Homo sapiens: one gene and its partners. The protein of the gene in region 1 purifies or fractionates together with the protein of each later gene. This does not show direct contact. Each region holds a gene or a part of one and is shown on either strand. Other genes may lie near its edges. The genes, in order: SDC4, CAMKV, TMEM192 and HADHB.

Region 1 (7,022 bases):
GGGTTCCATGAGGTTGGGGGGAGGCCTCTTTCCCCGCTGGGCTGACATCCCCCACCTTAAAATGAAAGGTTTGAACAGGGTAGCCTCCAGAGTCCTTTCCATCTCTCAATTTGATTAATAACTTAAGTACCTACTATTCAAAAGAGGTCTCTCTCTTGAAGGAATTAACTTGAGGGAATTAACATACTCCACCAAATGCTGAATCCCTCCCTCTCTCCCCCCGCACACTGAGGGCAGGAACTCTGCTCTATTTGTTTTTGTGAAATACCTGTCCCCTAGTTTGTACTCAGGAAATGCTTGTATGAATGAATAAATTCGTGCATGTAACTTTATTCTAAATGGTTCATTACTGTTATTTATTGCTAGTATGAGTATCTCCCAGTACTGCGAGGTACCATTTTCTCTATTTTTACAGGAAATTGATGCTCGGAACAATGCAGTGGCTTCCTAAGGTCAGAACCAGGTCCTTCTGATAGGGCAAGGTGTCTGGTTTGAGTGTCCTCAGAATATTCCAGATGAGGAAATTTGCTGGGTTTGAAGGTAGATACCTTAGGTCCTACTTCTGCGTTGCTGGGTGACCTTGAGCAAACATGCCCTGTCTCTGGGTCTCAGTGTCCCCAACTCTAAAATAAGGAGGCTGGACCATTGCCTTCCAAGGGTCCTTCCTGCCCAGAGAGCCCATTGATGAGGGGAGGGGCCCTTTGCTGGCCTCCTTGGTGAAGAGTCTAAACAAATCCCAGTCTCAGAAGAGAAGTTGGGGTGGCGGGGGGACATTCAGCTCCTGCCATCCCCAGCTCCTAGAAACAGAGGGCTTTTCCAAGGACTTGGAGTGCTGAGCCTGCCTGAATGAGGAGCTGGGGAAGCCAGGCTGGGCTCCCAGCCCCATCTCCCTGTTGGGAGAAGTTGGCTCCTAGCTGTCCTTCAACCTCCCGGACTGGACAGGCGAGTGTGATTTCCAAATGAATGCTTAAAATTGGGGTAAGGGGCTGGACCGAGCGCTGTGAGTCACTGCATGCTAGCGTAGCCTGCCTGAGTCACCCATTTCCTTTCAAACTCTTGGCTAATAGGACAGCTCTGTGGTGGGGGTGTTGGAATGAGCTCAGAGTTTTACCTTGTCCTTTGGGAGTCACTGTTTCAGTGTCCGGGGCTCGAGGGGACATACAGGACATGTTTGTACTAGGTCCCGCACTTTCACAGCCCCTTGCCTGCATGTAGACTTTGACATTGTACATTGTGCAGCCAGTCCTCAAAATTGGGCTTTAGACCTCTGCAGAGCAGGTAGTACTTTTTTCCTCTTTAAGGCAAAACTGAGGCTGCAACTGGCCTGCATTTTTTCAGAGAGCAAAAGCTGGTACTGTTCAGGTTTGGTGTGACCCCAGGATTTTCTGATGTTTGTGAGGACTCCTCTTTGCTTCCTGGGGCTGGCCAGAGGGCATTGAAACATTGGCTTGGTGTTACACAGACTTAACTCCAGACGTGCGAAGTCCACCTCTTACTGGCTACATGAATTCAGTCATGCTACTCCACCTCTGAGCCCCAGCCTCCTGGTCTGTTAAGAAGATCATGATACCGGTGTGGCGAAGCTTAAAGGAGACGACAGGGCTGTAAATAAAGGCACCTAGTACCATGCCTGGTAGGGAGGAGGTGTTACTTAGTGACAGTTCCCTTCCTTGCCCAGGCCACCTTCATGCCAGGGGGTCCTATCTCTGAAGATTCTGAGCCCAGGTCTCCTGGAAAGCTTTCTCCATCCCCCTTATCCCCCTTATCTACCCCCACAGCTGGGAGGTGGGAAGGGAGAAATCTAGGGTGGGGCTTTTGGAGTCCAAATCTCCTATTTGTTTATCTTAGAAGTGGGCTGTTTGCTAATTATCGAATGGGTTTATGTTTAAACAAGAACCAGTTCTGGGCAGCCCCACCTCTCCTGCTGGGATTTGCTGGAGCCTCATGCTGAACAGTTTGCAGCCTGGAGGGAGAGGGGGCAGGGGGTTTGCCAAGGGTATCAGACCACTCTGGACACTGTCCAGGACCTGGGGTCACCCTCCTGTGCTGGAGGGGCAGAGTTTCTACCCTTAAGGAGGCTGAGTGATTGCAAATAGCACTTTGAGGGGTGGGGTGTTGGTGGACAGAAAAGGTACAGTGTTCTGAAAAGCCAGTTTCTCGTATGTTTTCACTGCATGGTGCCCTAGAGAGGGAGGAGAGAGAACACATATGTCAACAGTTGGGGTCTCATTTAACCTTAGAAGAATAAGCCTGACTTCTTGGGCTTGTTTGTCATTAACTAACACAGTGGTGACCTTGGGCACATTCTTGCATCTCACTGGGGCCTCTCTGGTCCCATCTGCTGAAGGCTGGGTGACTGAAAAAGAGGGTACAGAAAACTCCAGCCCCCGTCCTAGCTCTGCTGCTCACCCAGGGACACACACAGTTAATACGTCACTTTGTTGATGTGAACTCCAGTGTCCTCTATAAAACACCTGTGGCACTCAAAGGTCATCATCGCTGTTTGGCAAACTTGTAAAGTTCTGGCTTTATTAGCACCTAGACGAGGGTTCTTAACCCGGCCAGAGTTTGGCTTTGGGGAGGTGGTGTCTGTGCATATGTTGAAAATGTAAACTAAGAGTTACAGTTATTGGGGTTTAGACCTTTTTATCCTTTTCAGGGGGCTGCAGTACTCCCCAAAAGGTCACTCTGATCTCAGCAGTTCTTTCTGGCTTTGACCTTTCTACAGCCATCCTTCCTCCCTCCCCCACTTCCCAGCCTTGTTCTTGCCTCCTGCTTCCCCCAACCCCCACCTTCAGCCCAGACCTTCCTATTCAGCGGCCCCCACCCCTTCAGGCTGCATCTCACCCCTCCCCCTGTCCTCCAGGCCCGGGAGCTCGGCTGCTCCAGTTTTCTCTGGCACAGTAGAAGAGGCTGCTGGTCAGGTGACACCTGGGGTAATGGAAAGGGGAGGCAGGGAGAGGCTGGTATGTGTGGAAACAGTGACTTGGTGAAGCCCAGCAGTCAGTGGCCAGGCCTGCGGGGACTGGCGGTGTCACTCTAGCCTCTGGGCGTGGGGGCAGATGTGGCACATGGCTGGCCCGGCTACCCAGAGTGGGGATACTCCTTGCCTTGGAGAAGCCCTGCCGGAGCCGTCTGTGGGACAGACTGACCTGGTCTGGAGGATGGCTTCCTTGGGGGTCGGTGAGGGAGGCTGGGAAGAGGCAGGAAGCCAGCACCCAGGGCTGATCTAATCAGCTGAGATAAGGCTGCAGCGTGGGCTCTCTACTCTGCTCTGAGAACACAGGAGGTTTGTTTACATCCCGAGAGCCTCCCTAGCCCTCGGATCCAGCAGGGATTTCGGATCTGCTGCCTAGATTACAAGCTCCAACTTCAATGCACCTCTGTCTCTGAGGCCCTGAGGGAGCCAGCCCCCTCCTGGCTGTCTCCACCGGTAATCGGAGCAATGCCCAGCTTGGTTACTGGGCTGGGACAGAGGGAGGCTTGTCTCTTTGAGACCTGTCTTTTACAGATTGGAAAACTGAGGCTCAGAGAAGGGAATTGTCCACGATCATCCAGGGAGTTAGTAACAAGGGTGCTGGGTCAGCTCCTGGCAGGGAGACATCCAGAGGCTCCTGAACCCTTCCCCCATTTCTAGCTGGCACCCTAGGATCCTGGAGTTCTTGCTGTGGGAATGGGCTGCCCTGAGGCTTGGTGAAAAGCTGGTTGCAGGCAGTGCCAGGCCTGGCTCTCTCCTGAGTGATTGTGTTCAGAGTAACCCGACCTTGAAGGCGACATTTGAACCCTCACTCCACCCCCACCCCCAGACCTGGTTTAACCATTCAGGCACCAGAGCACCAGACCATGGATTGGTGTGTAGTTTCTTTTTACCTTCTAGATTTTTATTTATTTATTTTGTCCCTGGGGACCCAGGTCCCCAAGTAGAATTTCAGGTGTTTCTGGTCACTGTCATTTGCACCTTCGGGGAAAATAAAAATGGTCTTTACCTCTGTCTGCTTAGGACAGGTGGTCAAAGCTGTGTGACCTTGGGCAGGTCTCTGACTATCTCTGTATCTTTTTTTCACAGTCTGAAGGGACCTGATTGGTTGTTGAAAAGTCTCTGGGCTCAGAAGCAAAATGATAACCTATTATAGATTATATTCCTTTACAGTTTGCAAAGCACCATCTCCCTGTCCCCAGGCTAGCTTCCTTCCAGCAACAGAACTGCCTCTGCAAGTTTTCCCAGGCCTCTGATCCTTTGAGCACTGATCCCACTGGCCAGGAGGAAGGCAGGTAGGGGTTAATCACAGCCACTATTCATTGATCACGTGCTGGGTCCCTTGCACACACAAATGCATTCCTCTTAATCCTCATCACCCTGCAAGGTGCTACCAGCCCTAGTCACAAAAGAGGAAACTGAGGATTTCAGAGATGAAATAAACTCCCAAGCTCATATAGTTAGGAAGTGGCAGAACTCACACTTGTGAATCTGCCTTGATGCACAACCACTCTGGGTGGTAGAGTCACAGTTGTGGGCCCCAGGTTTTAGCCATTCTGGGGAATGTCTGGCCCTTAAGAAGTGGGTGGGGTGGGGAAGAACAGTTACGAGTAGTGTACGCTGCTGGGGGTCTCCTGCTAGAAATCATTCTGGTGGGTCCAGGTGTTGGAGCCCCAGGTACTCACCATCCCCTCTCCCCACTAAATTTGGCTTGCCCAGTTATTACCCTTCTGGTCTTGCCTCCTGAAAGAAGGGTCAAGTGTGTCCCCGACCCTACCTCCCCTGGGGAGGAGCCAGGTCGGGAGAGGCTCTCATTAGTTCACAGTTATCCAAGCCCTGACCCTGAACTCCTCTCTGGTGCCCCAGCCAAGTTTCTGTTCCTTTGTTTAAGTGATATCACTTTCACCTTTGTTTACTCCTAGGCAGGGACAGGGTTGCCCTGGAGCCCTGGCCCAGCCAGTGTGTTGTGGACTGGCGGGTTAGGCTGGAGAGAAGTGAAGAGTGGGTGGCAGTGAGAAGCCTAGTTGTGGTTGGGACGTGTTCTTGAGGAAGATCTGGATTTGAATCCCAGCTCTAGCTTTCTAGTTGCATGACGTTGGATAAGTGACTCAGCTGAACCTCAGTCTTCTCATCTGCAAAATGGGTAGAGCACCTTGCAAGGCTGTTTTGCCATTTAAATGAACTTGTATAAACAAAGTACCCAGCATGGTGCTTGGCATGTAGTGGATACTCCTTTTAGTCACTCATGCTTTTCCTGGGGTGATAGAAGCCATAGGATTTGGGGATAGGGTTGGGATAGGACCTTTTCGTAGCTTCATGCCTATAGCCAAAAGACTAGATGGGGAGTATAACTGTAATGACAGCTGCTGCCTGTGGATTTGCTGAGACCCTTAGGGGCAGCCAACACCCTGGAAGGGGAGAGAAGATAATTCCAGTCTGGGAGCCAGGATACCTAGGTTCTAAGTCCATCTCCGCTGCCAGCTGCTTGGATGACCTTGGCAAAATCCCTTGTCTTGTCTGTTTGCTAGGTTATAAAATCAGATACCTTCTGTTGGCAGGTGTTAGTTTCTGTAGAACAAAAGAGCACTTCCCCTCCCTTCTTTCTCCCCAACAGTCTGGGGAAGAATGTAGTATCTCTAAACCCCCAGGCACTAATCCCAGATCCCCACCAGCCACAGGGCCAGCAGAGTCTGTGGGACCTAGGCCCATTGCCCTATTTTTTATTTTTTGGAGACAGGGTCTTCCTCTGTCACCCAGGCTGGAGTGCAGTGGCACGATCGTAGCTCACTGCAACCTCGACCTCCTGGGCTCAAGTGATCCTCCCACTTCAGCCTCCCGAGTAGCTGGGACCACAGGCGTGCACAACCACATTTGGCTAATTTTTGTAGAGATGGGGTTTCACCATGTTGCCCAGGCTGATCTCAAACTCTTGGGCTCAAGTGAGCCTCCCACCTTGGCCTCCCAAAATGTTGGGATTAAGCCACTGTGCCTAGCCACCACTGTCTTACTTAGTTGGTAATTTCTGTTGTGTGTTCATGAAAGGGACAAAGATACAAGGAGACTTGAGAGCCCAGAGAGGGTGCCTGTGCATGTATACACACGAACACACATGCCTGGGCAAAGGTGGGGTGAGCTGAGGAGAACAGACCACATTCTTAGCCAGGAGCAGGGCGGGGTCCATCTCTGGTCAGGGCTGGGCCTGGCTGCTGGGTGGCCTGGTTCTTCAAAGTCACCCCAGACTCAATGGGCTTTATCTGAAAAGAGGGCGGAGGAGAGGAGGACCGTTGGTGCCTTCCCAACCTTTACACAAAAAAGAGTGATTGCCCACAATCCCACGGGGCTTGGTCCCGTCTTGCTGGCCTAGTCCTAAATGGCTCTTATCCACTTTGGAGTTGCCTTCCCTCTTGTCAGAGGTCATGGGTGGAGAAGGGACCAAAACAGGGCAGAGAGGGGGCTTCCAGAGCTCAAGGAGAGATTTAATTCCCTGTGTCCTCCTATCACCACTGGGAGCTGGAAGAAGTTTCTTCCCAGCCCCTTGACTTGCTGTAGGAGGGAAATCCTGGGCTCATCTAAATGCAGCCTTTGAAGACTCCATCTTTTCAGAGCTTTGAAATAGGATCGAATCCAGGCCGTGCCGCGGAGCCCCGGGGTGACTTCAGACTAGACTAGTTTCTTTTTTGGAAACTGAGTATAAAAATGAAGGGTTAAGGATGAACAGGTGCCCACAAAGAGGGCTGAACTGGGAATAAATCTTGGTTTCAGCCTTGGTTTTGCTGCTGACTTGGCTGCAAGATCTTCACGCCCCACTTTCGCTCATAGCCTTCATTTCTCTAATGTAAAACGGAGGTAATTCCTAACAGCCAGTGGGCATGCTAATCCCATGGGTTGTTTTGAAATACCTCTTAGCACTTTCACATACTGAAAGAGAGGCTGGATGCATAAACAACCTTCCATGGCTCCTGGGGGCAGTGAGGGGTGGGAAAAGGTCTCTCAGCCTGAGACAAGTCTCCTGATGGAACTACAGCCCCTGTTGAGGACTTTGACC
Region 2 (7,531 bases), on another chromosome or scaffold:
ACTGGGACCCTTCCAGGACATGGCGGCCGTGGTGATTGATACAGGCACAGGATTCACCAAATGTGGACTGGCGGGAGAGGACCATGTCCTCAGTGTCATACCCTCACGAGTTCAGCTGCTGCAGCACCCAGCCCAGGGCCAGCCACGATATGCAGTGCCTGAAAACCAAGTGGGATCCTATTCAGTGCTGAACCGTGGTGTGGTCTATGACTGGGATGCACTAGAGGTGCTATGGCAGCACCTGTTCTATTGAAGGCTGGGTGTGCAGCCCGAGAAGCTGTCTGTGCTCGTAGCCGACTCGCCCATCTCACCACTCACCAACCGAGAAAAGGTGGCTGAAATACTCTTTGAGCATTTCCATGTCCCAGCCATGCAGACAGTGCATCAGGCCCTGCTGGCGCTCTATGCTTATGGACGTACCACTGGGCTGGTGCTGGGCAGTGGCCATGGCACTTCCTATGTGGCACCCATCCTCACTGGGGATCTGGCCCCACTTGACACCTACCGGCTGGATGTGGCTGGTGCTGACCTTACTGACTACTTGGCCCAGCTGCTGCAGAGAAGTGGCCACTCACTGCCCCAGGCAGGACTGATCAACCAGATGAAAGAGGCCTGCTGCTACGTGGCCATGGATGTGGCAGCTGAGAGGGCCCACACCCAGGCGCAGGCCGAGGTGGACTTTGTGCTTCCAGACAAGCAGGTTATCACGCTGGGGCCTGAGCGCTTCTGCTGCCCTGAGGCCCTCTTCCAACCCAATCTGATAGGTCTCAACCAGCTGGGCCTTCCACAGCTGGCCCTCCTAAGCATCAGCCGGTTGGAGGCCAAGCAGCAGGAGCAGCTACTGGCCAATGTGGTACTGGACGGTGGCAGCACCCTCATGAGTGGCTTCCCTGAGCGCCTGAGACAGGAGCTGGGCCCTGGTGCCACTGTGCTGGGGTCTCCCCACCGTGCAGTTGCTGCCTGGCTTGGGGGCTCCATCATGGCATCCCGGAGCTCTTTCCAGAGCCTGTGGCTCAGCTGCCAGGAATATGAGGAAGAGGGCCCATGGGCTATCTATAAGTACCAGCTGTGAGCATATAAAAGTTCTGGTTCTGCTTTCTTTAAGCACCGTGGCATGTTTCAGCCACAGGGTGGTGTGGGAAAAGCAGGAGTCCAGGCATGGGGTCATGGATGGGGGCCCTGGCTCTCTCCAAAGGCATGCCCTGCCTCTGCACTCTGGAACTCCATGGGCCCTGGCAACCTACCCTTTCTAGACAGCCCCGGAGCCCCTTGACTGGCATTGGCTCTGATCTGGCCTGACCTTTACTGCACCCCAAGGGCAACCACAGACAGTGGCTGCTGTGGGTTTTGCCCCGTTGCCCTGACGACAAGTGCAATTACCCTTGATTGCCAGCTTGTTGCCATGGCAATTTCAAACATAATGTAATAACCCACACAGCCTGGAGTGAGTCACAAGGTGGGGGGCGGGGGGCAGCCCCCTCCCCTGGCTCCAGAGGAAAAGACTGCTTGCCCTTCCCCATTGTGGGCCCTCTTCTGGGGACTGAAGCCAAGCAACATGGACAACAGTCAGGCAGTTTCAAAGATGGCTGGGGGCCTGGGGTGGGAGGGTTCTGTCAGAGTTCAGGCTTCTTGGGGAGCTGCACTGGTAATCTAGGTACCTCCTAGAGTCTGAACCTTTGCTGGAGCGCTATGCTGGGTTAGCAGGGGCTTCTATCAGCCAGCCAGAATCTAAGGGCATAGGAGTGCCGGCCTTTGGCACCCTAGAGCTGGGAGTTGGGGGCACAGATAAGTCCTGGATCCTGGGTAGGAGGCCCAACCTGAGCTGGGGGATGAAGCTCTGTGGATACTGCGGCTCGCACCTTATTCTGCCCCTCTGACTTTCTAGCTTTGGTGGGAGCCAGAACTACGAACTTGGGCCCTCTTCTCCTCCTCAGCCTCCCAACCCAGGCAGCCCCTGTCTTCAGGGTACAGGCCTCCTTAGGAGGGTCCTCATAAAGGCTACTAGGCAATGCTAATCTGGATTGCCTCTGCTCTTGTTCCAAACTCTGGTCTGTGCTAAAGGGCCTCCTGCCATCACTCTGGCCAGTGGAGTGGTGAGAAATCATGTCCCCTGACCCCGTCTGGCTTTGAATAGTGGAAGTAAGAACAAAGCTCAGCATTGGTCCCGTCCCTGCCCTGGAAGAGCTAAGAGGATGGCATTCAGCTGATGTTACTATCTCCTGCCTGAAAGGCAGCTGGAGGTTGAAGCCAAAACATTGAAGCCGGTCCTACCCTGCCTGTGCCTTCCTGTCTAGGGGCTGAGGGATAAGCCATGGCTCAATCCTAGCCCTGGGTTCTTGTCTTCAGATTGCCCTCCACAAATGGCAAAGACTTGTCTATCTTCACATACACCAGAGATCAAGGGGCTGCTCTGGTGGGGAGCCTGAAAACAGCCAATGATGTAGGGTCAGCACAGACCCTGCCCACTGCTGGACATGGTCCAGCCCCCTTCCCATGTCCAGCTCTCAAAGCCTGATTCAGCCTCCACAATCCTGAGACTTGTGTCAGGCAGGAAGGGGACTGATAACTCCAGGGACCAGCTACAGCGTCCACACACACGTGCCAGCAAGCATGCCTGGGTGCACAAAGAATGCAGACACACGTGCCCCTGGGCACCACTGCATACACTGTGCTGTTGCATCTCCCTCGGCAAAAGAGAGCATACACAACACGTACACGTGTGCACACACACCCTGCCACGTGCTCTCACCCACATGCACAGAGCGTGCTTAGGACCAAGAAGAGGTGGAGTACTGCCAGCAGCAGGCAGGGCGCTAAGGAGCCACCCCTTCCCCTGCCTAAAAATCCCCATTCCAGCTTCTCATTGACCCCCATGCCTGGATAGCCATGACCCTCAGGAAAGACAGAAAACATGTATGTGGCATGTGTGGGGTCAGCAAGCTACAGCTTGGCTACACCATAAAACTCAGAGACCCATTGTTTCAAGAATAGTGGGCAGATGGCAGGAAGGACTCAGTGCCAGGCCATTCATTCATTCTGCAGACATCAGCCGAGCATACTGAGATGAGAAACGGGTTCTGCCTTGCAGATACCCAGCCTGCCAGGAGATTCCTACCCAGTGGTGGGGTGGGTCCCATAACCCGAGACCACTCAGAGCCCAGGGACCCCAGAAGTGGCACCAGCCTGGCCTAGAGGAGGTAACACCAAGCCAGGGAGGAAGGTGAAGGGCTCAGTACCCCCTCTGGAGGAAAATTTTGAGGAACCTTGTTTGAGGCGGTCATTTCCTAAGCTAGCCTTCAGTCTGAGCCCCAGCCCCAGCTTCTGGACTTGGACAGTCCCTCCTGTCATCAGCCATGGGTGGCCAGGGCAGCCTCAAGATGGCTGAGGGTTTGGGGATGACCCCAACTCCCTCTCCCACAGCAGGGTCAGGAGGCTCACTGGGAGGAGTGAGGTGGGATAAAACCCAGCTCCAGACACTGAGAGGCCTGAGTCTGGTCTTCAGATACTGGCCTTAGGATGGTCCTCAGGGCTTGTGAGGGGTGTGGGTCAGGCTTTGGGTCCGTGAGCCTCACTGACAAGGGACAGAGAAATGGCCAAGGACTTCCTTTAAAGCTTCCTCCTGGTGGTTCTGAGCCTCCTCCCTCTGATTAGCACCCAGGCCAGGTGGGATACCTTGGTGCCACAGTTCTCCTGTGTCCCCATATCCCAGGCCAGGCCACTAGAGTGATACAACTCATGAAGTGTTTGACAGTGATTAGACTGAAAAGAAAGCAGAGGCCACACCATGTCACAGGTGACTTTTATAGTTTGGGAAATTTGGTGCCACACAGGAAGGGGCTGACTGTGCTGCCACCCTTGCTGGTACTTATGTTTGGGAAAGACTCTGGCCTTGCAGGAGTTGGGGATGGGGTGGGATAGGAGACTTTGCTACTACAGTCTAGGGCCCTCACTGTTTTCACACTGACTACCTGCAAACACACACCTCTGTGTGTTTACTGCTCCTAGCTAGGGGATGCGTAGCTAGGGGATGCTAGGGGATGCCACACTGACTACCTGCAAACACACACCTCTGTGTGTTTACTGCTCCTAGCTAGGGGAGCCTGCCCTAGCCCGACTGCCCATCTGGTTTTTCTAAGTTGGTCCTGCCTTTTGGGTCGGGTTCGGGGAGCTGGGCAAAGCCCCGTTCCCTAGAGACTAATGACTGGCAAGCGATCCTATGCAGCTCCAGGACTCAGGCTTTCCCCCAACTCTCCACTCACCACCCCTTACATTGGGCATAGGAGGCCTCCTCCGGCCCCAGGCTGAGGGCCTAAGGGAGCCATTGAGAACCTTGGCCAGGGCTAAGCAGGCCAGTGCTCACCAGCACCGCTGCCATCCCGCGCGCTCCTGCTCTCCAGTGGGATTCTGCCCTTAAGGCTCCGCCAGGGTCGGGGCGGGGCCGGTTGGGAGGCCCCGCCCCCAGCCCGCCCCCGGCCCGGGGTGCGAATCCGGTGCCGGCAAGCGGCTGGCGATGCTGGAGGTTCGCTAGCCGAAGCGGCTGCATCTGGCGCCGCGTCTGCCCCGCGTGCTCGGAGCGGATTCTGCCCGCCGTCCCCGGAGCCCTCGGCGCCCCGCTGAGCCCGCGATCACTTCCTCCCTGTGACCAACCGGCGCTGCAGGTGCGGGGCGGGCCGGGCTGGGGGCGCTTCCCGAACGCAGGTTGTGGGGCCTTGGGGGATTGTTTCCCTGGCTCGAGGTGCGGGATGCAGAGTGCGCGGGGGCGCAGCGAGGGCTCGAGGTCCTGGCGGGGTCAGAGCGCGCGGGCTTTGCAGATTTGGGGGAGGGAGTGCGGGGTCGGGCTAAAGTTCCCCATTACCTCGGACGGCTTGGGGGTTCTGGGGGGAAGCTTCTGCGGCTCGGAATTGTGAAAAGATTAACCCTCGAAGATTCGTGGTCCCCCGTGAGGATAGGGGCCGAGAGCTGAGCCGTCCCTCCCCGTTCCCAGAGCCGCCTCCAGCCCCTCCCAACTGTCCCCGGGCCCCTTCCCTCCCGCTTAGCAGTCACTAATTTCCATGACAACGGAGAGTTCTTTATGGGCGACAACCCGGAGGGGGCTGGGCGGGGCTGCCGCGGGGTGGGGGAGGAAGCTCCAAGCCCCTGGGGACCAGCAGCCCCCCAGCCAAAATTCAGCTTCCAAGCCTTCACCTGGGTGCCAGCTGGGGGTCCAGTGCATGGACCCACGTGCACGGTGGGGGTGGGGGCGCACATGTTCCTGCTGGGAGGTGCGGGGCTTGGTGCTCACACGTGTGCTTTCCGCATGTGTGTTGCTGTGCCAGCGGGGGCGAGCCAGCAGCACTTGGGAAAGGGGTCAGGGTGGCAGCACGGTGGGGAGCAGGGCCCCTGGCTGGAGGTGGCTGGGATAGTGACAGCATGAGCTTCTGCCTTCCCCAGCTTGTACTGTTTGGCAGAGACCCTGGGCTCTTGAGCCCCAGCCCCCTCCCCGCATAGCTCTGCCAAATTGCTTTTGTCCGCACCTCCCAGGCAGATCCTGCTCCACCAGGTTCCTTCCTAAGGATCAGGGCCCTCTGTCCCACACTAAAAGCTCAGAGTCTGCAGTAGTCCAGTCCCTGTGCTGTACTCCCCTTACCCCCAAGTCCAGGCTTTGAGCCCCCAGGACTACCTTTAGAGACCTGGTGCCCTCCCCCACCCTCAGAGTTGATTCCTGGCAGCTCCAGCGACTTCTGAGCCTCAGTTTCCTCAACTGGGGAACTGGTGTCTCCACTCAGAGTCAGGTTGGTTTCCAGGGTGGGGCAAGGGTCTCCCTTTTCTAATATTTGGTGTGGACCCTTCAGGTGCTCTCCTAGGCTGGCTGTTCACATATCTCTGATGGCCCTACTCTCCAGCCCCATGCCCTGGCCACCATTCACAGGCAGGCAAGCAGTCCTCTGCCCTGGGAGAAGGCCAGATTCCATGGTTTCCATTAGGGGAAACTGAGGCATGGGGAGGTGAAGGGCTGTGTGGTTATCCTGTTTCTGGGTTGCTTGTGGTGCCGTTTCTGGCACTCATGGCAGGATCTGCTGTTGGGGGTTGGTGAGAGGGGATTAAGCAGAGCTGTAAGAGGGGCTCTGGGGACCCAAAGCCTGGAAAGGATAGCAGATGGGGGAGGGGTTGGCTGGGAGGGTCTAAGTACAGCTGGGCCAACTGAGAAGAGGGACTATAAAGGGAAGCAGCCAGGCATCCGAGCCTCATTTCCATACCCCTATGCGTCTGCCTTCAACATGTTGGACCTGCTTTACCTAAGCTGCCGTGATGGCAGAGAGACGGGCTGGGAACTGTCCTGACTGGGGGGCTGCAGCAGCTGGCCTCTTCCCCACCAACATGCTCCAAGGAGCTGGCCTCCTTTTGGCTGTGCCTCCTACACCAAGTTCAGTGTATGTTTGGGGGATACAGGAGGGTGCAGTCTCGAAGGTCCCAGTACCATGGATAGCTCCTGGCCCAGGGATTTAGAGCACATCGCCATGGAGGCCTTAGGGCTCTGCTGGGCACCCATCCGCCCCCTTCAGAACTCCCGTCCACCTCCCCTTTCCTGCCCTTTGTGCCTGTGTCCCTTTTACTTTGTCATCTCCTTGCTCCTCTTCCATCACAGGTTCTGTCTTTGTCTGTGTCTCTGCCCCATTCTCTTTTTTCTAAATTCTCTCCATCTCCCCACCTCCCCTTTCTTGATGGGGACCTGGGTCACAGAACCTTGAAGAAGCAGCCAGGCTAAGGTCTCAGGAAATTCTTGAAGAAGGGACCTGACCAACACATCTCCCCTCCCCCTCCCCTTGTTTTAAAACTTCCATCACCATAGCAACCCTTTACTCTAGTGCCTTCCTCTGCATTTCCCCTCCTCCACCCACAGGGAAGCAGAGCCTCCAGTGGATTCTCCTTCAGGGGTTCAGAGATTTGGACCCCAAGTGCTTGGGAGGAGACAGCTGGCCTTTGGCTTTGCCTGCATGTTGACAGCTAAACTTTCGGGATGTAGCACTGGACTGCATGCCCACCCCCAAAACTGGAGAGACCTCCCCACAATACTCCCTCATTAGATGGGCAAAATTCAGCTGTAGGAACTTCTACCATGATTTAGCTCGAGCCGGAGGCTCAGTCAGGGCAGCCCCTTGACCGGTCCCCTGAAGCAATTGGATGGTGGTCTAGAAGCTTGGCCCTTGTTCTTAACAGACCTTGAGGGAGGTCTTCAGCTCCCCTGGTCCTGTGGGTGACACCTCAGCTGTGAGTTAAGCAGGGCTTGGGCTTCAGCATGTTCATTGCAGCAGGAAACCCAGCCCCAGCCCTTGAGAGAGTAGAGCAGCAGAGAGGAGGGGGTGCCTGCAGGCTGGTGTTCACAGCTGCCACTAAATTAGGAGGTGTTGCCTACAGTTGTTGGGAGGCAGCTGGAGGCCTCTTGGGCCCCTCCTGGCCTCCCTAGATTTACTGCAAGCTCTGGAGCCCCACGTGGCAGGGGACCAAGGTAGCAGGAAACTCTGTTTATGTCTATGAAAGGTAGGGCCTGAAC
Region 3 (7,664 bases), on another chromosome or scaffold:
ATGCTGATGGTGACAACACAGGAAAGATGGGGCTTCAGTCCAGCATCTTCTAATGGTGAACTGTTTGGTAGCATAGAGGTGGAAAGGTCATGGCTGACACTCCTATAACAAAAGCCAGATTAACAAGAGAAAAGCATAACAGATTTATTTATTTATTTATTTAAGAGGGAGTCTCGCTCTGTCACCCAGGCTGGAGTGCAGTGGCGCGATCTCGGCTCACTGCAACCTCTGCCTCCCGGGTTCAAGCAATTCTCCTGCCTCAGCCTCCTGAGTAGCTGGGATTACAGGTGATCTAATGACAATAGACTGAGTAGGGATAAGAATTTACAAGCATCTACTTTAATGCTTAGTACCAGGGTCAGCAAGGCCTGTTTGTTCAAAAGTCATAGAGAAACTTGGCTTTTGAGGCCTGCCAATGTGTCCTTCACTTCAAGTACTCAGCATGCAAAAGCACTATACTTGTGATATTATCCTCTTCTTTTTTTTTGTTGTTGTTGTTGAGACAGGGTCTTGCTCTGTCACACAGGCTGGAGTGCACTGGCATGATCTCGGCTCACTGCAACCTCTGCCTCCCAGGTTCAAGAAATTCTTGTGCCTCAGCCTCCTGAGTGGCTGAAACTACAGGCACGCACCACCACACCTGGTTAATTTTTGTATTTTTGATAGAGACGGGGTTTCACCATTTTGGCCAGGCTAGTTGCATTTTTAAACTTTTAAATCTGAAAAGTGTCTTGCTCTGTTGCCCAGGCTGGAGTGCAGTGGTGCAATCTCCGCTTCTGGGTTCAAACCATTCTCCTGCCTCAGCCTCCTGAGTAGCTGGGATTACAGGCGCATGCCACCATGCCTGGCTAATTTTTGTATTTTTAGTAGAAATGGGGTTTCGTCTGTTGGCCAGGCTGGTCTTGAAGTCTTAATGTCAGGTGATTCGCCCGCCTTGGCCCCCCAAAGTGCTGGGATTACAGGTGTGAGCCACTGCGCCTAGCCGATATTATCTTCTGAGCCCCAACACTAGGAAAACAGCTTCTCTCCTCCTCTCCTTACTCCTCATAAGTAAATAAACGCAAGAATCTTCACCAAAAGATCTTTAGTCATACAAAAATGAAGTGTCAGATACTTTTTAAATATAACTTATTTACAGGGCTATGCTTATATAAATTGCTTTAACAGTCATTAGAGCATTATATGGGCTGAGAACATATTTTTAATATATTATTAAAACAATGGGTCTGGCATGGTGGCTCTTGCCTGTAATCCCAGCACTTTGGGAAGCCGAGGCAGAAGAATCACTTGAGACCAGGAGTTCAAGACCAGCCTATAGTGAGACTCTGTCTTTACAAACAAAAAACAAACAAAAATGATTATGTATGTTAATAATGCCTTAATAAATCTGATTTAGACAAAAAATGACTAACATTTGCTTAGTGCTTTGTAGAGACAACATTGTATAAAGAGCATTACATGCATTATTTTATTTAATAGAAAATCTCTGGCTGGGCACAGTGGCTCACGCCTGTAATCCCAGCACTTTGGGAGGCTGAGGTGGGCAGATCACTTGAGGTCAGGAGTTCAAGACCAGCCTGGCCAACATGGTGAAACGCTGTCTCTACTAAAAATGCAAAAATTAGCCAGGCATGGTGGCTGACGCCTGTAATCTCAGCTACTTGGGAGGCTGAGGCAGGAGAATGACTTGAATCTGGGAGGCAGAGGTTGCACTGAGCCAAGATCACGCCATTGCACACCAGCCTGAGCGACAAGAGTGAAACTCTATCTCAAAACAAAACAAAACAAAACAAAAGGAAAGAAAATTTCTGTAAAAGGGAAACTAAAACTTCCCCACCTCAGCCTCCAAAGTAGCTGCTACTACAGGTGCACGTCACCACACCTAGCTAATGTTCTAATCTTTTGTAGAGACAGAGACTCACCATGTTGCCCAGGCTAGTCCCGTACTCCAGGCACCAAACAATCCTCCTGCCTTGGTGTCTCAACATGCTAGGGGCCATAGGCATGAGCCACCTTGCCCAGTCAGCTCCTAAGAACTTAAGCTAAGTGCCCAATATCACATGCTTGGTAAGATGCAGAACTCAAACCTCCATGACTAATTCTGGAGCCCTGGTCTTAACCAGTGTGCTGTCCCTGTGAAAGTACATGTCTTGGCTAGGTGCAGTGGCTCACACCTGTAATCCCTGTACTTTGGGAGACTGAGGCGGGAGGGTGGCTTGAGACCAGGAGTTTTGAGACCAGCGTGGGCAACATAACAAAGTCCCATCTTCACAAAAAGAAAAATCTTAAAAATAAGCCTGGTATGGATGTGTGAACATATAGTCCCAGATGCTTGGGAGGCTGAAGAGGGAGGATTGTTTGAGCCCAGGAGGTTGAGGCTGCAGTGAGCTATGATAGCGCCCCTGTGCTCCAGCCTGGTTAACAGAGTGAGATCCTGTGTCGAAAACAACAACAGAAAAGCATGTCTTGACATAATAATGAAATGAAATGTGTGAACCTTGATTGGATTCTGGTTACTGAAAAAGAAAAAACAGCAGCTGGGCCAGGCACAGTGGTGTATGCCTGTTATCCAAGCTACTTGGGAGGCTGAGGTGGGAGGATTGCTTGAACTCAGGAGTGTGAATCCAGCCTGGGCAACATAGCAAGACTCCATCTCAAAAACAAAACAAAACAAAATAAAACAAAAAAAGCAGCTAAAAAAGACATTTTGGAAACAACTTAGAAAATTTTTGCCATAGATTGGTTATTAGTAAACATGGAATTACTATTAGTTGTGTGTAATATTGATATTGTGGTTATGAAAGAAAATATAAAATATCCTTATTTTAGGCAACAAAGTATCTAGGAATGAAGCTTCATATTGTCTTCAATTTACTTTCAAGTAGTTCAGTTAAAAAATGGCCAGGCACGGTGGCTCACACCTGTAATCCCAGCACTTTGGGAGGCCAAGGCAGGCGGATCACAAGGTCAGGAGATCGAGACCATCCTGGCTAACACAGTGAAACCCCGTCTCTACTAAAAATACAAAAATTAGCTGGGTGTGGTGGCGGGCGCCTGTAGTCCCAGACCCTGGGGAGCCTGAGGCAGGAGAATGGCGTGAACCCGGGACGCGGAGCTTGCAGTGAGCCGAGATCGCGCCACTGCACTCCATCCAGCCTGGCGACAGAGCGGGACTCCATCTCAAAAAAAAAAAAAAAAAAAAAAGTATGTGAACACACACACCCACACACAGAGCAACCAAGACAAAAAATGAACAACTAATGAATCAAGTGTGAGGGGTACATGGATGTTCATTGTATTAATCTTTCAACATTTCTGTAGGCTTGAAAATTTTCAAAATAAAATGCAGAGAAGAAAATTTGCACGTCTAGAAAAGGCTTGTGATAAATAATTCATAGAATCTCAGGATTATGAGACCAGCCTGGGCAACATAGTGAGACCTTGTCTCTACGAGAAAAAAAAGAAAAAGAAAAAAGAAGATCACGTGGAGTCTTACACCATCTCTTCCTTCACTAACATTTGCGTAGTTTTATCTCACACATCCTAAACTGGATCACACTATACTCAATGTACAAATAAGCATTAGAATGTATGAAAGTGGGCAAGACGCGGTGGCTAAACTTGTAATCCCAGCACTTTGGGAGGCCGAGGCGGGCGAGTCACCTGACCTCAGGAGTTCCAGACCAGCCTGACCAACATGGCTAAACCCTGTCTCTACTAAAATACAAAAATAGCCAGGCTTGGTGGCACGCGCCTGTAATCCTAGCTACTCAGGGGGCTGAGGCAGGAGAATGGCTTGAACCTGGGAGCCGAGATTGCACCACTGCATTCCAGCCTGGGCGACAGAGCGAGACTCCGTCTCCGCCGCCCCACCAAAAAAATGTATGAGTGTATATATTCTAACTGATATCAAAGTTCTCTCCGGGAGCTGGTAACAGAAAATTTCTTTCCTTGTTTGCTTACATTTTTACAATCATGAGCTTTTTAGAAAATGTCATTGAAGTTTTTTCTCTTTTTGAAATTCAATTTTAAAAGAAACAAGGGCCCAGTGGCTCACGCCTGTAATCTCAGTACTTTGAGAGGCTGAGGTGGGAGAACTGGCCAGGAGGCCAAGAATTCGAGGCTGCAGTGAGCCGAGGTCGTGCTAGGGCACTCCAGCGTGGGCGACAGAGCGAGACTCTGTCTTAATAAACGAACGCCGTAAGCATTCCGAACTGCTTTGTTTCCCATTGGAGAAATCTGTAAATATGTCATGGAAATTGGAATCTTTATTCTGCTCCTGTCCCTCTGCTGGCGGAGTAGGATTTTACCGCTGGTTCTACCTAGGCGTAGAGCTGTGTCTGCAAACAACCAGGCAAGACCGAAAAAAGTTAATGTTCTTAAAATATGCAAGTGGAGCCCGAAAATAGTTAAATTCTTGGACTAGGAAGGCATCCTTAAATGCTCAAGTCTCTGGGTAAGAGCGCACCGAGGGGCTGCGGCCAGAAGCCCCAGGAACCGAGGTGGTTCAGGCGGTAGCCACCGCCCACAGTCCAGGTCTTCTGGGCCGGCACACCCCTCCCACCATCTCAGCCAATCGGAGCTAAGGGGGCGGGGATCGGGCCAGCCGGAGGCGGGGCGGACGCAGGAGGGGGTGTGTCTGGGGAGGGGCCTGGCAGGTCCCAGAAGGTGGCGAGTTTCGCGGCCAGAGGCTTACAGGTCCAGGTGGAGAGGCCGGGCTGGCCAGGGCTTCGGCCTCCGGCGTCGGGAAATGGCGGCGGGGGGCAGGATGGAGGACGTGAGTGCACGGAGGCGGCGGGCGGTTGGCCCCGGAATCCGCTTTTTCTTGTGCCGGGGCGCACGGGGCGGAGACTCAGAGAGGGAAGCCACCCTTGGCGACTGCGGCCGCGGCCGAAGGGGGCGCCGCCTGTGCCCGGGGAGGCCTGGGCGCGGGGCTTTGGGAGGGCTCCAGGCGGCTGTGGGATCCGCGACACGTTGGCTCCGGGCTAATTTTCCCAGTGGAGGCTGGGGTGGGCTCCTGGGCGGTGGGCGCGCGGCCCCCGGGGGTCCCAGGCTGGCGCCCAGCCCACGTGCGGGGTACGTCTTTGATCCCGGAACTGGCAGCTTCACGTGATGCGCGCCTGGCCTGACAGCCCTTCCTCCCCGCGAGTCTCCGGGAGCCGGGCCGATGGGTTCCGCTCGGACGTCCCAGGGGCACAGGGGGCGAATCTCCCTTCCTGGTGAGGTCCCTTGCCTTGGCTCTAGAGGCTGTGGACTTGGAGTGACAACGACGCTCGGGCCGGGCGCCAGCGTCCCGCAGACCTGTCGCTATCATGGCCTGGAAACCCACACGAGAGAAAAAGTGTCATGTGTTGTTTTGAATCTAGCATGGTAGGAATACAAAGGTTTTTAAATCTTTGATAGATTCAAACCAGATTACCAAAACAAAAACAAAAACAAAAAAACAAAAAACCAGTGGCCTAGTTTACAGCGTGTATAGTACAGAATGGTAGCATAATTACAAAAATCTTATTTCTTTGCTTCAGTATCGTAAGGTGTTTTTAGGAGAAACATGTATGTATGCTGAGAGTTAACTGGATTTTCCACTGGCAAGTAATAAAATTTTTGCTCTTGAGAAATGCAAAGTTGACAGTTACTGTAAAGCACTAATTTGGGTTAATAAATTAGTAGGAATATTACTGTGATCCTATCACTGAATGAACTGCATCAGGAAAAGGAAGAGAAACATGAAACAGTTCCAGCATTACGGTAGCTTAGATTCTTGTGCAGTAACCAGTTAAATAATCTTGATGAAATAAAGACCAAACAATTTCTAATGAAACTAAAATTTTCTATTTTTTCCAGTTGAGAAAATGGAAAATTAACTGTAAGACCTGTAAGTAGATTTGAGACTCATATATATTTAAAGCAAAATTCATTGTTTCTGAGTTTTTAAGGCTGAGCTTCATGAGCTGACAATGTACAGAAAAAACCGAATATGTAAGAGGAAAATGAGAGTGTCTTAGAAAAACACATGCAGTAAGTGCTTCTTGGTTGATGCTAAGCTGCTCTGGCGTTCTTGGATCTGTAGCTTTTAGCTTTAGGATGCATATAGTACTAGAAATCTGCTTCCTCAAACACTGGAGCCTGGGGATGGTCTGGGAGGCTCATGCCTGTAATCCCAGCACTTTGGGAGGCCGAGGCAGGCAGATAACCTGAGGTCAGGAGTTTGAGACCAGCCTGGCCAACATGGCAAAACCCCGTCTCCACTAAAAATACAAAAATTAGCCAGGTGGGGTGGTGGGGGCCTGTAATCCCAGATACTGGGGAGGCAGGAGAATCGCTTGAACCCGGAAGGCAGAGGTTGCAGTGAGCCAAGATCGCATCACTGCACTCCAGCCGGGGCAACAGAGCGACAGAGCGAGACTCTGTCTCAAAAATAAAAATAAATAAAAATTAATTAGAGATTAATGTTTTGCTACCAACCACATATTGGAGTCACTTTAGATCTGAGTAAGTTGCCTGCTTTTGGTATTTTGTAAACATGATTCCTAGCCTTCAAGAAAAAGCTAAAAATTTTGGACCATGCCTTAGTTACAGACACTTAAATGAGTTGAGTCAAAGACTTTGTGTTAGTAGGGATTCATTGTTTGCAGGCAGTGAAACCAACTGTGGCTAATTTAAGAAAAGGATGTATTCGAAAGGCTATAGGGTGAGTATATGCCAAGGCCTCTGAAAGGACCCAAACAAGGGCATCTCAAGGCATTGAAGTGACAGGAGTCCTTTCAGGGTCTACCCTGGAATGAATCTGCCTAAATCATGATCTTTCTTCTTTTTTTGTGATGGAGTTTCACCCTTGTTGCCCAGGTTGGAGTGCAATGGTACGATCTCGGCTCACTGCAACCTCCGCCTCCCGGGTTCAAGTGATTCTTCTGCCTCAGCCTCCCAAATAGCTGGGATTACAGGCATGCACCACCACACCTGGCTAATTTTGTATTTTTAGTAGAGACGGGATTTCTCCATTTTGGTCAGGCTGGTCTCAGGTGATCCATCTGCCTTGGCCTCCCAAAGTGTTGGGATTACAGGCGTGAGCCACCGTGCCCGGCCTCATGATCTTTCTTTTACTGCTCATGGAAAGAGTTGGATTCACCCAACTGTTTTTTGTTCCATGACCACTCCTAGAGCAGAGGAGGAGGAAGGGTATTGAAGGATGGTTCCACTAAGACTTAATGCAGAAGTAGACAGTGGGTCCTCAAAGGAAATAGAGTTATTGTCACAGAAGAGAGAAGAGATACCATGTGGGCAAAAACAACAGACATCTTCTACAGGTGGTAATGTAGTTAATAATGGAAATGAAAAAATCATTTGGATTCAGGAGTCCTCTTCCCCTCACCCTTCACTTGCAGATGGTGAGTTAATAGAATGACTGGGTGCTGTTTGTATGGTTACACTGCATATTTCCTATAGGATTCAATGGAAAGTAAATACTCCTGAGTGACATAGAGAAGAACCATATTATAGTCCCCAACTCCTTCAGTGTAGTTAGGAAAAACAAAAGATACACCCATGAAAAGGAAAACAATACAAGGCAGCATAAGAAATATTCCAAATGAATATTATGGGCAATAAGTTTTATAGGATTTTAAAGCAGAAGGAAAACACTTAACAAGGCCAGTTTTATAGAG
Region 4 (7,022 bases), on another chromosome or scaffold:
GGATCTATTATTTTGGATAAGCTTCCACTATCATAGCATGGCCCTGTAAAGAAAACAAAGTCCAATTAGAGCAATGAATGGTGATGAATCCACCTAGTACAGGGACAGCAGAGAACAAGGAGAAAAGTACAGGCTTTGGAGTGGGATCCTGGCTCTGCCAATCAATCACTGTGATCTTGGGAAAGTTTGTAGTCAGTCTAAACTGGAATTTCCTCTACAAAATGGGGCTCATAGTGTCTACTTCATAGAGTTTTTGTGGGCATCACATAACATACAGTATATTTGTATATGTGTGTATATATATACACACACATATATATTTATATACATTCATATATACATGTATACATATATGCATCAGGCTCTGTCTAGTACAGAATCTAATTCCTAGTGATGCTCTACAAATGGATGCTGTTAAAATGAGAAATCCAGGGGCTTTTTTAACTGTATAAACATAAACATGATACAGCAAATACCAATAAAAGTAAGTTTCTAGAGGGGAAAACTGAGGCTCTGAAAGGTTAAGTGACTCACCCAAATCACAAAGCTATTAAGGTAACAGGGCCAGGATTTGAAACCAGGTCTAGATGATTCCAAAGGCTGGGCTTGTCCCTTCTTCACTATTCTACACAGGTTAAGATAATGATCTGAGGGACCACAAAGGGAAGAAGTAGAATATCTTTCTTTTTTTATTTTTTTTATTTATTATTTTGGAGACCGTGCCTCGCCGTTGCCCAGGCTGGAGTACAGTGACGCGATCTCAGCTCACTGCAAGCTCCGCCTCCCGGGTTCACGCCATTCTCCTGCCTCAGCCTCCCGAGTAGCTGGGACTACAGGCGCCCGCCACCACGTCCGGCTAATTTTTTGTATTTTTAGTAGAGATGGGGTTTCACCGTGTTAGCCAGGATGGTCTCGATATCCTGACCTCGTGATCTGCCTGCCTCGGCCTCCCAAAGTGCTGGATTACAGGCATGAGCCACTGTGCCCGGCCAGAAGTAGAATATCTTTTATCCAGCACTATGCACAGTGCTATGTACTAGCTATGTCCTTAGTTTAGATGAGTCTAAATCCTAGCATAGAATTTTTAGACACCCTCTAAAAAACAAAAAAGTAAATAAAAGAAACTATTATTTACAAAGTGCCAAGTTGAACACTGCAGGTTTAAAGATTTGCCACATGGTCTTTGTCCTCAATCAAGTATACACTGGAGTTCAAAACAAACTGTTAAGTACTTGGTTTTTCTGTTTTTTTTGAAACAGGGCCTCCCTCTGTCACCCAGGCTGGAGTGCAGTGGCCTGAACACGGCTCACTGCAGCCTCAACCTCCCGGGCTCAGGTGATACTTCCACCTCAGCCTCCCGAGTAGCTGGGACTACAGGCACCCACCACCACGCCCAGCTAGTTTTTGTATTTTTAGTAGAGATGGGGTTTTGCCATGTTGTCCAGGATGGTCTCGAACTCCTGAGCTCAAGCAATCTGCCCACCTCAGCCTCCCAAAGTGCTAGGATTACAGGCATGAGCTACCACACCTGGCATGTTAAGTACATTGAAAAGGCACAAGCAGACAAAAAAAGAGCAGGGATAGGAAGGTTTGACTGACTTGGGGGTTGTCCTGAAAGAATTCATAATAAGGTAGACTACTCCTCTCTGGCTTGCTTATTTTATTTTTTATTTATTTTAATTTCTTTATTTGCTTTTTGAGACAAGGCAACTCTGTCACCTAGGCTAAAGTGCAGTGGCGTGAATACAGCGCACTACAGCCTCAACATCCCGGGCTCAAGCAATCCTCTCACCTCCCTCCTGAGTAACTGGGACCACAGGTGCGTACCATCATACCTGGCTAATTTTTGTATTTTTGGTAGAGACGAGGTTTTGCCATGTTGCCCAGGCTAGTCTCGAATTCCTGCGTTCAAGCCACCCAGCTGCCTTAGCCTCCCAAAATGCTGCGATCACAGGCATAAGCTACCGCACCCAGCCCTCTCTGGCTTTATTTTAAACACACTGTTTTCATGTTCCATGTTTTTTCTTGCTCTAGATCAGATTTGGCAACACCTGGAGATACTTTTGGTTATACCAACCGTGTGTACCTGGGGCAGAGGTGGGGAGGAGCTTGTTGCTACTGCTATCCGATGGGTAGAGGCCATGCTAAACACCCTACAACACACAGCCCCCCAAAACAAAGAATTGTTTGGCCCAAAATGTTAGTGCCAAAGTTGAGAAACCCTGCTCTAGATTCACCACGATGGATTTCTCCTCTGTCTCCAACCATGTTGGTATTGCTCACGTGGCTCTTGATCAAACAATGTCAAGTTTAATCTAGTTTCTCAGATGCATCTTATCTTCTCTCTTCATACTATAAACTTCTAGAAGAAAGGTGCTAGGTATTATTCCTTGTTCATCCATAAAAGCATCCAGTATTGTGTTATTTATACTCTACATGCTAGATAAAGAATTAGGGAACACATACTCAAATCTGCAGACATTACCCTATGTGGATTACGCACTATGCTCGTGAGTAATGTGTACAGGTTATCTCCCTGGTAGAAGCCTGGCATGAAGAGATAGAGGGATCGCTCTAGTCTTAATGGACCATGGTTTTCTGTAGATGAAGTTACACAGATTAAAAAGCATTTGTGATCATAAAGTCCAAAATGTTCCAACTGATAAATAACTGACCCCTTGGTTTCTGCAAAGTCTCTGAGGAAAATCCATGAAAAAGGGCTTTTAAACGTAAGATTTATTTCATTTACTTTATTTTTGAGACAGAGTCTCTCTCTGTCACCAGGCTGGAGTGCAATGGCGCCATCTCGGCTCACTGCAACCTCCACCTCCCGGGTTCAAGCGATTCCCCTGCCTCAGCCTCCTGAGTAGCTGGAATTACAGGCGCACACCACCACACTAGGCTAGTTTTTATAATTTTAGTAGAGACAAGGTTTCACCATGTTGGCCAGGCTGGTCTCGAACTCCTGACCTCAAGTGACCTACCCGCCTCAACCTCCCAAAGTGTTGGGATTACAGGCGTGAGCCACTGCACCCGGCCAGTTTATGCTTTTAAATATTTATTCATTTTGATCAGGAACAGGAAGTTTCTGTAATCTAGAGGAAGAGAAAATCTGTTCACATCGGGATTAAAAAAAAAAAAAAAAAACAAAAACAGGCCAGGCACAGTGGCTCATGCCTGTAATCCCAGCACTTTGGGAGGCTGAGGTAGGCGGATCACCTGAGGTCAGGAGTTCGAGACCGGCCTGGCCAATACGGTGAAACCCCGTCTCTACTAAAAATACAAAAAAAATTGCCCGGGCTTGGTGGTGAGCACCTGTAATCCCAGCTACTCAGGAGGCTGAGACAGGAGAATCGCTTGAACTCGCGAGGCAGAGGTTGCAGTGAGCCGAGGTGGCACCACTGCACTCCAGCCTGGGGGACAGAGTGAGACTCTGTCTCAAAAAACAAACAAACAAAAAACAAACTACAATCTTCCTTTTGGATTTTATTCCTAGAGTGAGATGCTACAGCAGTCAGGAAGTTGGGTCTCTAATGCAAGTGAAGTAGAAAGGAAAAAATCTGTCAACAATATATTTCCCCAGCTGAACAGCAGTAAGTTATCCAGAAGTAAATTAACTCCCCAGTTAAGGTATAATTCAGTTCTCTAGAAAGATAGTTTCTCTCTTGGAGAGATTTTATAAAGTCTTATGGTGACTAGATAAATAAAAGTTAATTATTAAAGAAGAAAATATATCAAGATGTTAATAATGTTAATGTCTGATGGGGAGATTATAGATGATTCTAACTTTTTCTATATACTTTTCATATATTCCACAATTTTCATAATCAGCATATATTTATAAGTAAAAAATAAACATTATATTGGGGAAAAATAGCTTGGGTTTAAATAGCTGTTTCCTTCCAAAGAATTATCAGAATTATGGCAGGGCATGGTGGCTCATGCCTGTAATCACAGCACTTTGGGAGGCCAAGGAGGGTGGATCACTTGAAGTCGGCAATTCGAGACTAGCCTGGCCAACATGGCGAAACTCTGTCTCTACTAAAAATACAAAAATTAACTGGACATGGTGGTGCACACCTGTAATCTCAACTGCTCGGGAGGCTGAGGCACGAGAATCACCTGAATCCGGGAAGTGGAGGTTGCAGTGAGCTAAGATATTACCACTGCATTCCAACCTGGGTGACAGAGCAAGACTGTCTCAAAAAAAAAAAAAAAAAACCCAAAAAACAAAAAGTTTTATCAGAATTACAGCTGTTATCCCTCCCCACTCCCCACCCCCAGGTCATCAAAAATATTGCTTTAAGAAGGTTTCAAACTAAATCATACATTCTAGTCATTCCAAGAAAATGACTCTCTGGAGGGTCCTATGACACCACTGTAACGTACCTGCCCTCCAGCTGCACACGCAGCCACTAAGCCATACTGGCCTCCTTCTTTCCGTAATCTGTTGGCAGCAGCCATGACCAACCTGCAGCCAGTGGCTCCAAATGGGTGTCCCAGGGACAGAGATCCACCCCAGTTATTAAACTTCTCCAAAGGAGGCAATCCAACCTGGCTCCCCCAAAGACACAAATGTAAAGATAAGTTTACTTAAGATCAGAATCAAGCTAGGCTCTTAGTACTACGAAGTAAGAGAGATAGAGGAAAATACGTAACGTCAGACATATTACAAATAATTTTACTGCAAAAGAAAGTAAGTCTAGGTCAATATTAAAAGTCAGGAGTCCATTTATTTTTCATCTAATGTCAGAATGCAAGGAACAAAAAACACAGAATTTTATTTTTGCTAAATAATTTCTATTTTTAAACTAAGAAATAAATATATTTAATGAAATACAAGAATTTCTACTTTTACACTAAGAAATAAATATCTTTAATGAAAGACAAAATTCTTCAAAAGAAAGAGAAGCTTTCCCTTCATATTCTTAAGAACAGGTAACTAAGATCCAATTATTAACGTGCTTTGAAAATTCACGCATTTTTTAAAATTAGAAACTCACCTTGGTTTTTCTACCCATGTAGTTTTCTGCAAACCAATCAGAATCCATGGCTTTAAAATTTGCCAAAATCTGACCCTGGAAGAGAAAATAATCGAATAAGAACCTCGTTATTCATGTTCCTCTACGCTTTCTTATAGGAATGGTTTGTGAAAGTTTAACAACTTTAGGTATGGTTTAAAGTTGAACAAATCGGCCAGGCACAGTGGCTCACATCTGTAATCCCAGCACTTTGGGAGGCCAAGGCGGGTGGATCATCTGAGGTCAGGAGTTCAAGACCAGCCTGACCAATATGGTGAAACCCTGTCTCTATTAAAAATATAAAAAAAATTAGTCGGGCATGGTGGCAGGCGCCTGCTTGTCCCAGCTACTCGGGAGGCTGAGACAAGAAAATTGCTTGAACCTGGAAGGCGGAGGTTGCAGTGAGCCGAGATCGTGCCACTACACTCCAGCTGGGGCAACAGAGCAAGACTCTGTCTCCAAAAAAAAAAAAAAAAGTAAAGTTGAACAAATCTTTGTATCAGTTTTCAATGGCAATTTCCTAAAGAAGCAATTTGGTATGTTCTCCAACACTGTATGTGTGGCCCTTGCTTCCCTCCCCTCGGGCCCCTCCCAGCAGTGTGAATCAGTACTTAAAATATGCAGGTCCACTCCTGCTCTACTCACATCATAAACCATGCCTTGCTCTCTCCCACAAATATGGATGACATTTTTTATGACTATAGTCCCTTCATATGTGTCTTTCAAATTACTTACCGAGAAAGCTTCATGAAATTCAAAAGCATCAATATCATTCATGGTCAATCCTGCCTTTTCTAGAACTTTTGGAGTAGCATATGTTGGTCTGCAAAGAAAAAATAAGTAATATCTTAAAACTTTAATTTTTAAACTAAGAGCTCCTTCATATTCCCCAAACTGAGTTTTACATAGGTACTCTAATGTCTTTTCACTCATTCTTTGATTTTTCTGTACTGATTAATGAAATGTTAAAGATAAAATAGTGAAACTGTACAGACATGCCCTCTACTCTTATGTTGCAGAGTCAGAGAAATTGATAATAAATAAACAGTGAGGGATAAGGACAAGCTAATAACATGAAGAACTGGAAGAACAGAGTTCAAAGAGCAAGGCAAGGGAAAGGGCTTGACTGATGTGAACGTCACAGTGGAGGCTAGAGGCTACAGCCTTGTGAGGGAACGGAACAGAGTCTAAACATGGGGAGGCTTTTATAAAAGGCTATATTAGGAAGATTGTGTAGCAGGGTGTGTAGCCATATGAAAAAATGCATATGCTATCTTAATGAAAAAGAATATAAGTTGTGTGTGTCCATATATATATGTAAAACTTATAGGAAAAAAATGGAAAATAATCCAAAACTGTAACATGATATACCAATGGAAAGGATTACTACTATTTTATTTATTTATTTATTTTTTTGAGATGGAGTCTCGCTCTGTCGCCCAGGCTGGAGTGCAGTGGCGTGATCTTGGCTCACTGCAAGCTCTGCCTCTCGGGTTCATGCCATTCTCTTGCCAAAACCTCCCGAGTAGCTGGGACTACAGGCGCCCGCCACCACGCCTGGCTAATTTTTTGTATTTTTAGTAGAGATAGGGCTTCACCGTGTTAGCCAGGATGGTCTCAATCTCCTGACCTCGTGGTCTGCCCACCTCGGCCTCCCAAAGTGCTGGGATTACAGGCGTGAGCCACCGTGCCCGGCCAGATTACTATTATTTTTTTTAAAAAAACCACCACATAAACCAATTATGAACTCAGGGCTTAATATACTCTCAAACCAGTGTAATAAACAAATAAATAATAAACCAGTGTTAATCATTTATTAACCAGTATAATAAAACATAGGCAATCAAATACTTGTGATTATAGTCCAAGGATACAAACTGCTACCTACCCAAGTAATAGTTGATCTTTTGGATCCTGAGACACATACATAAAATCCCTAGGTAAAAAAATAGAGAGGTGAGCTTTGGTAATAAAATAAAGAAATCAGAGATGATTTGTTTG

The links.
Region 2: the proteins of SDC4 (region 1) and CAMKV purify together in Homo sapiens (co-immunoprecipitation; 2 studies listed by BioGRID and IntAct, with this or other methods). This does not show direct contact.
Region 3: the proteins of SDC4 (region 1) and TMEM192 purify together in Homo sapiens (co-immunoprecipitation; 2 studies listed by BioGRID and IntAct, with this or other methods). This does not show direct contact.
Region 4: the proteins of SDC4 (region 1) and HADHB purify together in Homo sapiens (co-immunoprecipitation; 2 studies listed by BioGRID and IntAct, with this or other methods). This does not show direct contact.

What each region holds. Positions count from the first base shown.
Region 1 is NC_000020.11:45,338,425-45,345,446, reverse strand, and holds part of SDC4 (syndecan-4 precursor), read left to right. Parts: intron 1-7,022. UniProt on the Homo sapiens protein: Cell surface proteoglycan which regulates exosome biogenesis in concert with SDCBP and PDCD6IP.
Region 2 is NC_000003.12:49,866,885-49,874,415, reverse strand, and holds the start of CAMKV (caM kinase-like vesicle-associated protein), read left to right. Parts: upstream 1-4,509; 5' UTR 4,510-4,658; intron 4,659-7,531. UniProt on the Homo sapiens protein: Does not appear to have detectable kinase activity.
Region 3 is NC_000004.12:165,109,860-165,117,523, reverse strand, and holds the start of TMEM192 (transmembrane protein 192), read left to right. Parts: upstream 1-4,663; 5' UTR 4,664-4,750; coding exon 4,751-4,777; intron 4,778-7,664.
Region 4 is NC_000002.12:26,282,939-26,289,960, reverse strand, and holds part of HADHB (trifunctional enzyme subunit beta, mitochondrial isoform 1 precursor), read right to left. Parts: intron 6,958-7,022; coding exon 6,910-6,957; intron 5,845-6,909; coding exon 5,757-5,844; intron 5,079-5,756; coding exon 5,004-5,078; intron 4,555-5,003; coding exon 4,390-4,554; intron 44-4,389; coding exon 8-43; 3' UTR 1-7. UniProt on the Homo sapiens protein: Mitochondrial trifunctional enzyme catalyzes the last three of the four reactions of the mitochondrial beta-oxidation pathway.